Linked DNA regions of Homo sapiens. The protein of the gene in region 2 purifies or fractionates together with the protein of the main gene of each other region. This does not show direct contact. Each region holds a gene or a part of one and is shown on either strand. Other genes may lie near its edges.

Region 1 (3,500 bases), on a different chromosome or scaffold from region 2:
ATTACAAAGATTAAACTATAACTGAATTTCATACCCTAATGGGTCAAGTCCCTGGTCTAGGAGCATTAGAGAGGACTCTCTGAGCTTCTGCAGCAACTTCCTTAGCTCTTCCTTAGAAAATACCTGATTTTTAAAAAGAGAAATAAGAATGAGAACAAAGACAAGTAGACAAGTATGAACTTAGTTACCTAATCGATCTGATTAGCTTCATATAAGAAGAAATGCCTCTTTAAGATTTATGTAGCCAGAGCCTAGTAAATTAGAGTGGTTCAGGAATTTCAAGGTGAATTCTCAGAGTCAGTCTATATATTTCTAACTGCTTACAAATATACACACATTTTGGGAAAAAAGTACAAACATTAAAACATTAAAACTGGACTATTACTTTAAGAAAATCCAAGAGCAATTACAAATGTAAACACATCTTCACAAAATTAATATTACTACAGAGCATATCAAATCATTAAAATTTAAAACTACAAGGCTCTAGAACTTACCAGGTACAGTTTGTGGCGCTCAGAGGATACCATATCTGCTAACTGTAGGCATTCCTGATACTGACCAGTACTGTGCAATATCGTATGAAGCAGAAAACACAACATTGGCAGACAAAGCTTTCTCAGTAAGACCATTTGATGTGTTCTTTCATGGTCTTCTTTGGCATCCTACAAACAGACATCAATAAATCATTTTAACAATTTAAGCTAAAGATCCTTACAAAAAGAAAAGCCAGGTACTGAATCAAACCCAGAATGTAATTGGTAGACAAGATTTAACAGCAAAAAAGTATGAAGATGAACAACGTAGACTACAGAGAGGTATGACAGTGAAAATAAAATGCTTCTGCATTTGTATTTCTAATAAACTTACTATGTCCTGAATAAAAACATGCATAAAAAGAATGAGTTGGAAACTGAATATCATTAGAGCAAAAATCAGAACAGAAAACAATCACCACTCCTTTGGATGTTTATACATATAAATAAAGATAGCTCTAAGGAGGCCTGAGAGGACACAACAGACTGACAGCAATGACTGTTGCTGGGAAAAAGACGATGTGGGGAGGGGCACACAGGGAGGGTCAACTTCATTGCAGACTACTTTGCTTATACACATGGAAAATGGAATTTATAATTTCTTTATATAATTTTTAAAAACAGAAAAACAGAACCTATAGATTTGAATAATACAATTAATGAGTCAGAACAGATATATAAGGAAAACAAGCAGAAAAAACAATTGGCATTCCTTTATACATACATGGATCTTTCTTAAAATCGATGTGAACAGTAAAAGTACAGAAAAAAGAGTAAACCTCTTATGCCCACTACATTTACTTACAAAAAATTTGAAAATTAAAATAATTAGAAAGTAACCAACCACATAATTTCTTTTTTTTTTCTTTTCTTTTTTAACCTTTTTCTTCTTTTCTGAGACAGCATCTCACTCTGTCGCCCAGTCTGGAATGCAGTGGTACAATCATGGCTCTCTGAAGCCTTGATCTCCGGGCTCAAGCAATCCTCCTACCTCAGCCTCCCAAGTAGCTAAGAACCACAGGCATGTGCCACCATGCCCGGCTAATTTTTCTATTTAAAAAAAAAAATAATTTTATTATTTGTAGAGATGAGGTCTCCCTATGTTGCCCAAGCTAGTATCGAACTCTTGGGCTCAAGTGATCCTCCTGCCTCAGCCTCCCAAAGTGCTGGGATTACAGAAATTACACACTACAATTTCTGAAATAATCTTAAAAATAGGAAGGAAATCAATAGCACTAATAGTGTAGAAAAAAAAAACAGGACAAGCTAAAATAATAACTGCTCCTTTGAAAAGCCTAATGGAATACCTAAAAGTATCTTCATGTGAGAGGCTATATTAAATTGCTAAAACATTTTTCAAATGGACATGTAAGTGGAGGGGTTAATCAACAACAAAGTATAATCTGGTAATTATACCAAGGAGTAATTGTACTAATTTGGGCTAATCTAGGTCAGGTTTCCAAACATAGGAAAAATTACTATCAATATTTTGGTCTTGTTTGAAGCATAAATACATAAAAGCAAATATTAAAGTGCTTCTTTACAAGGGAAGCACCTTTATTTCTTTTCTCAAATAGATACTTGCTACCTTCAGAGGTGGATTTAAAATGCTTCAAGGTTTTACTTGTAATTCATATTAGTGATCCCAACCTAGAACCCAGTAAGAATAAGAGAACTGCTTCTTTCTGGACCTTTCCATTTGTGCTCCAATGTAGTCTTTCTGTCTATGTTAAAGAGGCCGGGTGCCCCTGGCTTCTGACTCCTTGTTGCCCGAAAAGCAGCAGGTTACTTTCTTATCTCACAGGATGGACCCAGACTTGCTTTTACTAAATCCTTTTGCTGCCATAATATCAGAGTGTGCTGCAGACAATCTCTTCTGCTAATTATAATGAATTCCGATACTAGCGGGCGGGCTGCCAGCAACTATCCAGGGTAATGGCTGACAGACCCAGCAAATTGCTACAAGGAAAAGCAAATAAACAGCTCTGCTACAACTGAAGACATTTTTCTCATCTGAATGAACAAAAGCTTTGAAATAGCCGGTAAATATGTAAAACAGACGGATTATTTCCACTAGGGATATTTCCACTTTTTTTTTTTTTTTTGAGACGGAGTCTCGCTCTGTCGCCCAGGCTGGAGTGCAGTGGCGCGATCTCAGCTCACTGCAAGCTCCGCCTGCCGGGTTCACGCGATTCTCCTGCCTCAGCCTCCCGAGTAGCTGGGACTACAGGTGCCCGCCACCACACCCGGCTAATTTTTTGTATTTTTAGTAGAGATGGGGTTTTACTGTGTTAGCCAGGATGGTCTCGATCTCCTGACCTCGTGATCTGCCCACCTCAGCCTCCCAAAGTGCTGGGATTACAGGCGTGAGCCACCGCGCCCCCCCATGTAGTGCCTTACATGTGAGAAAAACTCATTACCTAATATGTGTTGATAGCAAGAGTTGATTGGAACTGATATTACAGCTATTCCTAATCTGAAGACAGTACATTCACCTCAGTAATGCAGTATCATTCATTTACTAAGTACCACTGAAAGCCTCCCATGTGCTCAGCATTATTTTAAGTGCCAGAGTCAAAGAAATAAAGAAAACAAGGTTACTCCCTTCATGAAGGTTATATTCTAATGAGGGTAGACATACAAAAAGCAAATAAATTAATATGTTTTATATCAGATTGTGCTAAGTGCTATGAAGAAAACTAATGTAGGATATGGAGATTAAAAGGGACAGGTGTGTGTGTGTGTATACACATGCATACATGCTATTTTAAATAGGGTGGTTGGGTTGGGGAGAGGTTCTTGAAAGAGATGACATTTGAGCAGCTGCTGAAAGAAGTACAAAGTCATCCATGCACCTATCTTGGCGAAGGAGCATTCTAGGCAGAGGGGAACCAATGAAGAGGCCCAGAATGCCAGGATATAGTGATGGGAGAGCAGTAGGACACAAGATTAGGGGGTTAGTTT
Region 2 (3,500 bases):
AAATATAAGCCTTTGCTAAACTCCTCTAACTGGAACTATCGGGCAAGTTATCAGACTCCTATCTCTGATTTACAATCCAGACCACTACAACTCTGACTGTAGAGAGCACTGGCAAGGAACTGCAGACACCTTAAGCTAGTTTCAACCTGCTTAAAGAGGCTGCGCACAAACTGTCTTTGTGTCCTGTAGTTCACCTTTTGTTCACTCTTCACGTAAAGAGCCAAATTCCAGCTCATTTTCATGCTAAAACGCTGCCCCAAAGTGAACATGGGATGTATATTATATATATTTACCTACTGTTTATATGCTCAGTTCCCCTCATAAATATGTATAGCGTTTCCCCAAAACCTGCTGAATATGCATGACTCTATTGTGTAATAAGGACCCTGTGAGGCATAAAACCACACCTGTCCCTGCCCTGTGTGAAGACAGAACACCTTTGGTCCACGCTGGAGACTATTTCTTCCTCATGAGCAAAATGATATCACTAATAAAGCTCTCCTTTCTATTAAACACTATTTAGCCACCCTGGGGGTCTTCTTGATGACAATATGAATTCTCATTTTGTGGGACAGAAGGAAGAAAGGAAAGTAATAATATTCTGAGTGCCTAATATGTGGCAGGTACTACTTTAGGTATTTTACAATCCTAAAAATTATATTTTTTGACAAGTGAGACAATGCAGGGAATTAATGATATGCTTACAGTCACAAAGCTTCCTAGTGGTGGAGCTAGGAATGACACCTCATGCTTTGTAACTTCAGGGTCTATATTCTCTCCGCTAGTAAAACTGCTAGGGGAACCTCAATGAGAGATCAAAAAATGAAGAGGTATATAAATGCATTTCCTTTTATGGATTACTTTAATTCTGTAAGGGAAATAATACAGGGGAGTAAGAGAGAACCAGCAAATGGGGCACTATAAATTAACTCAAGATGCAACCAGCACTCTTGTATTTCATGTAATTAAAATAGGGAAAAATCTTGGCTCACAACTCTAAAAAATCTGGAAATCTGTGCTATATATGAACAAAAACATTTCTTTAATATAAGTTTAGAAGGCAGTACACTATACTCATAGGAGTAAAAGAAAGCAGACTCTGCAATGATTAATTCTAGTAGTATTTCATTACATATAATAAGAACAAGCTAAAAAAAAAAAGACCAAATAATGTTTCAATTTGTCAAAGCTAATTTCATTCACGAAAAGCAACGGTGTGGTACTTTAGGTATGTTTTTACTTACTTCTCCAATGGAATCTTGAGAATCCTGGTTGTATACCTGAGTCTCTACCTCTCCATCAGTACTTTCTTCTGCCATAACTTCTTCCTGTATCATAATACACTAATATATTAACCATATCAGTGTAGTAGATGAAGGGTTACCTGTTTTTGTTAGTTCTCTCATTTGAAAAAACCCTTCAAATCTATATTTTATGAAACTATAGAAAAATAAAAAAATTTTATTTAAAAATTATAATCACATTCCTCCTCAGTATACACAAAGTAAGGTTTATGAACATTAATACATGCTAATACAATTAATTTAGTAGCCTTAATGTTTGATTTGAAACCTGCTTCATTACAATTTAATCTTAACCACAAAAAGGAATATAATTTTGGCTAATCTTAGAAAAAGATAGCAGGTAACAGTTTATGTCCATGAGACTTAGAAACTTCGAGATGAAATTCAACTTATGTTTTTATGACTGAGCTTTTTTATTGAAATAGAAACAAATGCAATTAAAGATATGCAAGAATATAAAACACTGTTGGTAATAATACCTGGGTTGTCAGTGGAATCTTTGTAGAAAGTTCAATAAAAGTGTTTTCCAGATAATATATTTTGGCCCCAAAAGGTTAATTTTCTTTAGGCTGTAGCTGAAAAGAGTACCTTAACTCTACTGGTAAAAGTTAAAATACACAGAAAGAACTTTACGCACCTCAGTTCCTACAGGTGTGACACTTTTCAACTTCTTTGGAAGAGGCATTTCCACTGTATCATCAGAGACTTGGTCTGATGCTTCTATGGTGCTATCCTCTTCCTCTTCACGTGTACGCTTTGGCAAAGAAGAACTGGGGGTAGCCGAAACTTTGAAATTATATAAATCTTGAATTAGAGCATGATAATAACTCAATTTAGATAAAGATAGTTTACCCAATATGGTCACTTAACTAAAGGAGAACACAGTAAACATTTAATTGTACAGATTACTAAAATACAATCAATCAACTCCTAGATCAATGTCCATCAACATAATTTGTTTCTGCTAAGCTATGGGTAAACAAAGAGCAACTTATGCTCTGAGTCAATGTTTTTATACCAACCCAAGCTTTGCTTAATAAAGCCAGCCAATTTTTACAATATATCTGGTTCACTGAGATTGTATTACTATGTTGTTATCTACAAAGTTTACATGGGACCTTCTATAAAACTCAGGACTCCTTGAATAAGAAAAAATGTACACTGTATGTAAATCAGTATATAGTCTTATCTTAGGTGTCTTTTAGTCCTCAGGACTTCCGTTAAATTATATACAATGTTTTGCATTAATATGTAAGACCAGTAAAAAAAATAACTGGAGGGGGAGAATCATCTTAATGACAAACAACTGATTTAAAATAGTCATATTCAGTAGTAAACATGAAATAAAATGTTAGTAATATATTCATTCATTCTAATTCCTGGTAGAAAGCATGTATGCACAAAGAATACTTGTGATACGTATTATATCCAAGATATTATAATTGCGTAGGTCTATTCTAACTTCATTTGTACAAAGAATACTCAAGATATATATACTCAAGATACACTCAAGATCTTATAAATGCATAGGTCTACTCTGACTTCATTTTAAAATTAATTTTACCTGTGCCAAATACTGCTGTGGAAGTAGAAGGCCGCTCAACTGGTGAACTCTGAACAACCTCTACTATGTTTGAAGATAACTCTTGATTGGCAGGCTCAATCTGAGGATGACTCTGTTGAGTGGGTTGCACAAAAGCTGTAGCCTGTGTTTGTTGCTGAACAGTTAAAATAGGTTGAGAGATAGAAGGCTGGACATTAGGACTAGTAGAACGAACGGATCCACTTGTGCTTCCAAAAACTGGAACATGTTCCACAGGCCCTTCTGACTGCATAGCTGAAAAATAATTATAATGCTGAATATAAGCCTTCTACTTTTATCAAAGCTGAAATTATCCTTCCTATTCTGTGGTACATGTCACCTTTCACACAGATTTGGCACTTGGTAGACAAATACATTGTAGGTAAAGGTAATGTATTATGCATTTTTATATTCCCTATGTAATTGATATGGTAGCATGCAATAAAATGTTGCCTGAATTAAATAAATATCTGTAACTGATTTTGCATCTATTCATTTAAATTACTGTTGAATAAAATTAATGAAATTAAGCTCAAAGTAAAATTAGAATTTTTCATTAAGCATCATTTAGTTTTTAATTGATATAACAGATAGTAAATTTGATTAGTAATATA
Region 3 (3,500 bases), on a different chromosome or scaffold from region 2:
GTAGTCTGAAACACTGGCCACGACACCTCTAAGAATCTCCCCCATCCAACCATCACTAGCTTTGGTCTTGAATGCCTTTGAGAGGGCTGATGAAAGTATACAACAGTATTTAGGCGAGCATAATGCTTAAAATTAAGCTTTATGTGCATGATTAAAATACTGAGATGCCCTTTCATACCCATTTCTTTGGCAAAAATGTTAAGTTTGATAGTACCAAGTACTAGTTCTGATGCGGGGACAAAGGAACTCACACAGTGCTGGTGGCATGGTGAGTTAGTAGAACCACTTTGGAAAGCTGTCTGCTGTTACCTAGTAAAGCTGAACATGCATTTGGGTGGGCATAGGTGGCCTGGCACTGGCAGTGGCACCCTCAGGGTCCCATGGAGCCAGCTCCTGGCTTACCGTTCGGCAATGGAGAGTGCCATGTTCTTCAGCCTCTCCTTGTTGGATTGCGGGGCACTGATCTGGGGGACGACAGGGCTCAGCAGTTTGTTCATCAGCTCCAGTACCTTGTCAGCATTCTGCTCAAGTTTTTAAAATTAAGGAAGCAATCAATAAAGTAATCAATAAAAGGAACAACTATATAATGCCCCCTACCCACCAAAGAGAACTTTCTGGGGTGACATTTTTTACCGCCTCCCAAGTTCAAGCAATTCTCGTGCCTCAGCCTCCTGAGCAGCTGGGATTACAGGCATGCACCACTATGCCTGACTAATTTTTATATTTTTAGTAGAGACGGGGTTTTGCCATGTTGGCCAGGCTAGTCTCGAACTCCTGGCCTCAAGTGATGCGCCTGCCTTGGCCTCCCAAAGTGCTGGGATTACAGGCGTGAGCCCCTGCACTTGGCCTATAGCTGTTTTTTTGTCTACTTTTCTCAGTTGATAAAGGAGAGAATGTAATCTTGTTTAGGTCATAGAATCCTTAGCAGTTATCATATGTTCTTAGTCATCATTTGTTCTTCGGTAGAAACATGTATTCTAGTCCTCTCAAAACGCCCAGCTAAGGTCTTATTTTCTTTCACTCCTTCCTGCACACTGATGTGGTCTTATTTTCTAACACCACTGTTCCCCAGTGTGTCTGTGGTTGCCAGGGTCAGCATAATGTAATTTTCAACAGTGGCTTCACCATCGAAATGTGATGGATGCTAATTCTGCTGCCAAGTGAGACAACAGTTCAATGCCTGCAGGACATCCTTTCAATATGTTGTTTGGTCAGAAAAATCTTATGGGCAGAAATAATGCTGTAAAATGGGAATTCTGTCCTGACTGGACCATTAACTGTCTAAGCACTAGAGCAAATGCCTCTGCAGGGAGGGTGCTACAACAATGACACTGTCCAAGTGGCTGCACATTTAATGCCAAAAGGCCAGCAGACCTGTGAAGTGCAAAAGAAGGAAGTGGGCACACTTTACCTTGGCAAGGTCATACAGCTTTGCTGCCTCTTCAAACAGTCCTTTATTTTCTGCCACAGAAGCAACTTTGTTGATAATAGGCTTTGTGTCACTAGTAAACTTATCTATGACTCCAGGCTGACAAGACAAATTATGGAGGGGGAGGAAGAGAGAGACGGGTGCACAGAGCTATTATTTTAAACACAGAGAAGCAATTAGGATCCAAAAAATACTTCAAGTGGAATTGCTTGCCCTGGGCAACGCATATATTTCATCAGCCAGACTCTGGCTTTCTTAAAGATATAAAGTCCTATTAAAACTATAAAAGAGACCAAGGAAACTACACATGAAAGGGCAGACTTACTAGAAGCACAGAGGAGTCAGCAATAAGACATCTGTGCTTTCTAATTTTCCAAAATGACCCAGAGAGTCAGTGAAATCAATGATTTTAAATTTGCTGATAAGTAGGAACTAGAGAGAAAAATCAGGAGGCTTAGAAAAAATATCTGAAAAATTTTGGATTTGCTTTCTAAGACAGATGGCAAAAGGAACTCAGTGCTGAAAAAACACACAGCAAGTGGTAACAGGACATTTCTTTTTTTTTTTTTTTGAGACAGAGTCTTGCTCTGTCTCCCAGGCTGGAGTGCAGTGGCGCAATCTCGGCTCACTGCAAGCTCTGCCTCCCAGGTTCACACCATTCTCCTGCCTCAGCCTCCCGAGCACCTGGGACTACAGGTACCCACCACCACGCCTGGCTAATTTTTTTGTATTTTTAATAGAGACAGGGTTTCACCGTGTTAGCCAGGATGGTCTCGATCTCCTGACCTCATGATCCACCCGCCTCGGCCTCCCAAAGTGCTGGGATTACAGGCGTGAGCCACCGCGCCCGGCTGGTAACAGGACATTTCTTAAAAAAAAATCACCATCACCACTCAACAGCAACTAAATGGTCAGGAGAGCATGAGAGAGGCCTTAGGCACCCTGGGAGAATGAAGGCAAGTGCATAACATCTCTGCCTGGCCATTCTGCTTCTCCACTAGCGCTGGACTCTCAGGGCTAGACCAGGTCAAGGTGGCTGGACCAGGTTGAGGTGACTTGCCCTGCCACTTGGGAGGTAGCAGAGGATAAGGTCTTATCTATGTTTCTAGCTCTGTCAACTCACATACAGTAGGAGCCTCCTGGCCCCAGTGCAGCCTGTTAAAGAAGAAACTATGCAAAGCACTCAGCACAATGCCTGTTGATTGTCACTGCCCAATAAGCAAGGCCACTGTCATCAGCACTGTCACTTGCCTTTCTTCTGAGGTAGATGGTGTGAGCAGTGTGAGCTCATCTACAGATTGCTGGGTCCAAATCACTCATTTTTACAAACGAGAAAACTCAGCCCCTGAGGGACAAGTGACTTTCCAAGGGCCACAGGGAGATTCAGGGTCATGACTGGTCTCTGACAACAGGATCTCTGACCCTCCTGCCATGACAACCAATGGGCATAGTGAGTCCTGAAATCCCTCAAGCTTCCAGAAGTATTTCCAGGGTCACTGTGGAGTTCAAAGCCCTTGGAAACTGCATTTTGAAGGAGGTCAAGTGCATGTCTAACTTTCCCATCTTGGGAGAATGGGTGCAGTAATCAATTTCTTTTCCTTGCATGTTTTCTGAGCCAAGAATGGCAGAAATGTATAATAGCATTCTCAGCTCAAAAAATGACAGGCATGAACAAATGAATATTCTGAACATAATAAAAAAGCTATGTAATCACAAATTAACATATTTTAAGGAGATATAAGTGTGTGTAAAACCAAGGTCATCATTTGGGCCCATAATTTTCATTCCATTTTTTAAATTAAGCAACTCTGTTCAGATTTGCATCTTTAGTACCTTGAATCTTAAAATCTAAGTGTATTTTTTGATATTTATAAATCCCCAATGGCTAACGAACATTTCTCTAAGGATGCATTTAACTCACCTTTCTACTTCCGTCATTCTCTAGTTTCCCAAGAATCATATCGAACTGTGGAAGGAAAAAAGTTTACTCAAATTATTGGACAAAGATATAAACATATTCCATAAGTCTTCAGAGAAAAAAGAGGGGAATCAAATGGGATGAATGGGATAA
Region 4 (3,500 bases), on a different chromosome or scaffold from region 2:
GGAGAAACCCCGTCTCTACTAAAAATACAAAATTAGCCTGGCGTGGTGGCACATGTCTATAATCCCAGCTACTCGGGAGGCTGAGGCAGGAGAATAGCTTGAACCCGGGAGGTGGAGGTTGCAGTGAGCTGAGATCACGCCATTACACTCCAGCCTGGGCAACAAGAGCTAAACTCCGTCTCAAAAATAAATAAATAAATAAGTAATATATAGTTAGAAATTGAAATAGCTATTCCATGACCATCTACTTGAGCTTTCGTAGATTTTAAACTTTCCTTCCATAGCTTTTTTTTTTCCAAAAGTATTCATAATTACCAAAAATGCTTCCCAGTTACAGGTTTAATACGTGTATTCAATCACTGACAATTCTGTAATTTGCAACTTGCTTATCACTAGCAAGGAGCAGTTAGAGTTCATTCGACCCTGAGAACTTAGTAAGAGAAGATAAAGAACAGTGGAATTAATAAAAATCTTAATGTATAGGGCCAGCCTCAAAGGTTATAAGCGCTTGTATATTAGTAAGTGAGGCAAAAAAAAAAAAAAAAAAAAAGACAACACACAGCTTGAACTCCCCATCTCACACCTAGCATAATTTGACACAATAGGGCTTAGTTTAAAAACTGAACCAACAAATGAAACCTGCAATGTAAGTACATCCATATAACCTGGAAGGAGGGGAAGTGGCAAAACGGTATGGCCTCATTTGAGTTTATCAACAAGTTTATTACAATTAATACAGAATGATTACAGTTAATTACAATTAACACAGAGGGTCCAGATAAGATGAGAAGAGACAAATAAATTTCCAGTCCTCAACATGTATATAGTAGGCACTTGATCAATGGCTGCTGAGTGAATGAATTTTGATAGGAGTAAAGGATAAAAAGACACTGATGGGCTAGGCACAGTGGCTTATGCCCATAATGCCAGCACTTTGGGAAACTGAGGCAAGAGAATCACTTGAAGCCAGAAGTGCAAGTCCAGCCTGGACAGCATAGCAAGACCCCGTCTGTATAAAAAATGAAAAACTTAACTGGGCATAGTTGTACGCACCTGTGGTCCCAGTTACTTGGGAGGCTGAGGCAAGAGGATCACTTGAGCCCAGGAGTTTGGGCTTCAATGAGCTATGATTGCATCACTGCAATCCAGTGTGGGTGACAGAGCAAGACCTTGTCTCAAAAAAAATAAATAAATAAAAATAAAAATAAAAAAACACTGAGGGGAGGGGGTAGAGAGTTACAAGGAGAGGGAAGTAAGCATCCTTCTCCTCATCTTGCTCATTCTAACACCTGCAAAACCTGCCAGCCCCTGACAATCCCTTCTAACCAGCCATCATCTGGCATTATCTATATCTATATCTATATAGATATAGATATATAGATATATAGATTTTTTTTTTTTGAGACAGAGTCTCGCTCTGTCGCCCAGGCTGGAGGGCAGTGGCACAGTCTCGGCTCACTGCAACCTCCACCTCCCGGGTTCACGCCATTCTCCTGCCTCAGCCTCCCGAGTAGCTGGGACTACAGGCACCCACCACCAGGCCTGGCTAATTGTTTGTATTTTTAGTAGAGACAGGGTTTCACCATGTTAGCTAGGATGGTCTCGATCTCCTGACCTCCTGATCCACCCGCCTCGGCCTCCCAAAGTGCTGGGATTACAGGTGTGAGCCACCACGCCCAGCCTATATCTATATTTTTTTTTGAGACAAGGTCTCACTCTGTCACCCAGGCTGGAGTTCAAAGACACGATCTCGGCTCACTGCAACCTCCACCTTCCAGGTTCAAGCAATTCTCCTGTCTCAACCTCCCAAGTAGCTGTGACTACAGGCATGCACCACCACACCTGGCTAATTTTTCTATTTTCTGTAGAGACAGGGTTTCACCCACGTTACCCAGGCTGGTCTCAAACTCCTCAGCTCAGGTGACCTGCCAGCCTCGGCCCCTCAAAGTACTGGTATTATAGGTGTGAGCCACCACGCCCGGCCATTATCTATATTTATTAAGGATCGCTGGCCAGGTGCAGTGGCTCACACCTGTAATCTCAGCACTCTAGGAGGCCAAGGAGGGAGGATAGGTTGAGCCCCAGAGTTCAAGACCAGCCTGAGCAACATAGTGAGACCTCGTATCTACAAAAATAAAATAAATAAAATAAAAAAGATCACACAGCCCAGGTAGGTACCACTCATCTCATAGAAAGACTTACACACACATACACACACACACAAACCAGCACTTGGGGAAAAGAGCCTCAAATCAATGTCTAAAATAAGCTCCAGGGCCTATTACACATGACCCCTGTGTTGAGTGGGTTTTAAAAAATGGGAGACATAATTTGTGTCTGTAAGAGTTTACATTTCTCAGCAACAAAAAGAGGAAAAAAAACAAAGTTTTGGCCGGCTGCGGTGGCTCACACCTGTAATCCCATCACTTTGGGAGGCTGAGGCAGGTAGATCACCTGAAGTCAGGAGTTCAAAACCAGCCTGGCCAACATGGTGAAACCCCATCTCTACTAAAAATACAAAAATTACCCAGGTGTGGTGGCGCATGCCTGTAATCCCAGCTACTCAGGAGGCTGAGGCAGGAGAATCGCGTGAATCAAGGGGGCAGAAGTTGCAGTGAGGCAAGATGGTGCCACTGCACTCCAGCCTGCGCTACAAGAGTGAAACTCTGTCTCAAAGAAAAAAAAAAGAGTTTACAAACCTGAACTATCTGTCAGGAAATCACACCCGAAATCTGAATGCAGATTCTGCAAAGGCTTTACTCTTTGAGGCTAGGGACTTATGTCAAGTGAGTTTTAAAAAAAGATGCTGATGAAACAAAAAGAAAATACAATGATGCTGAATATTTTGTTTTATCTATGCATCCCCCTCCTCCAGTGATGTGGGGAAACAGTCAAGCTGGCCAGTAATTTCAGGAACTTCATCTCAAGGCTGCTATACTGAGAAAGGAGGTTTAGGCTGGGGGCAGTGGCCCATGTGTGTAACCCCAGCACTTGGGGAGAATCGCTTGAGCCCAGGAGTTCCGACCTCATCTCTATAAAAAAATCAAAAAATTAGCTGAATGTGGTGGTGCACGCCTGCAGTTCCAGCTACTCAGGAGGCTGAGGAGGGTGTATCCCTTGAGCCCAGGAGGTTGAGGCTACAGTAAGCTATCATTGCAACATTGCCCTCCAGCCTGGGTGACAGAGTGAGACCTTGTCTCAAAAAAAGAGAGGGGTGGAATTTAAACTAGGGATCCAAAGTCTAATTTCAGGGTGGGAGGGGTTTGAGGGATGAGAAATTACTTAATGGGTACAATGTATGTTATTCAGGTGCTGGTTACACTAAAAGCCCAGACTTCAATGCTGGATAATACATTCATGTAATAAAACTGCACTTGTAACCTTTAAATGTATAAAGTCTAATTTCAGTTTCTTGTATACATATAAATTTATATCTTTCTTACCTGCTACTCCAGAAAAATTATTATATTTGTTCTTGGGGAATAAGTTTATAGTTTGTT

Evidence for each region. The genes of interacting proteins can lie anywhere in the genome.
Region 1: the proteins of TPR (region 2) and NUP107 fractionate together in Homo sapiens (co-fractionation; 4 studies listed by BioGRID and IntAct, with this or other methods). This does not show direct contact.
Region 3: the proteins of TPR (region 2) and NUP93 purify together in Homo sapiens (affinity purification with western blotting; 2 studies listed by BioGRID, with this or other methods). This does not show direct contact.
Region 4: the proteins of TPR (region 2) and PTPN11 purify together in Homo sapiens (affinity purification with mass spectrometry; 2 studies listed by BioGRID, with this or other methods). This does not show direct contact.

What each region holds. Positions count from the first base shown.
Region 1 is NC_000012.12:68,738,978-68,742,477, reverse strand, and holds part of NUP107 (nuclear pore complex protein Nup107), read right to left. Parts: intron 666-3,500; coding exon 498-665; intron 124-497; coding exon 16-123; 3' UTR 1-15. UniProt on the Homo sapiens protein: Plays a role in the nuclear pore complex (NPC) assembly and/or maintenance. Required for the assembly of peripheral proteins into the NPC. May anchor NUP62 to the NPC. Involved in nephrogenesis.
Region 2 is NC_000001.11:186,330,254-186,333,753, forward strand, and holds part of TPR (nucleoprotein TPR), read right to left. Parts: intron 3,142-3,500; coding exon 2,869-3,141; intron 2,091-2,868; coding exon 1,942-2,090; intron 1,329-1,941; coding exon 1,245-1,328; intron 1-1,244.
Region 3 is NC_000016.10:56,834,629-56,838,128, reverse strand, and holds part of NUP93 (nuclear pore complex protein Nup93), read right to left. Parts: intron 3,396-3,500; coding exon 3,351-3,395; intron 1,529-3,350; coding exon 1,412-1,528; intron 522-1,411; coding exon 403-521; intron 1-402. UniProt on the Homo sapiens protein: Plays a role in the nuclear pore complex (NPC) assembly and/or maintenance. May anchor nucleoporins, but not NUP153 and TPR, to the NPC. During renal development, regulates podocyte migration and proliferation through SMAD4 signaling.
Region 4 is NC_000012.12:112,425,447-112,428,946, reverse strand, and holds part of PTPN11 (tyrosine-protein phosphatase non-receptor type 11), read right to left. Parts: intron 1-3,500. UniProt on the Homo sapiens protein: Acts downstream of various receptor and cytoplasmic protein tyrosine kinases to participate in the signal transduction from the cell surface to the nucleus. Positively regulates MAPK signal transduction pathway. Dephosphorylates GAB1, ARHGAP35 and EGFR.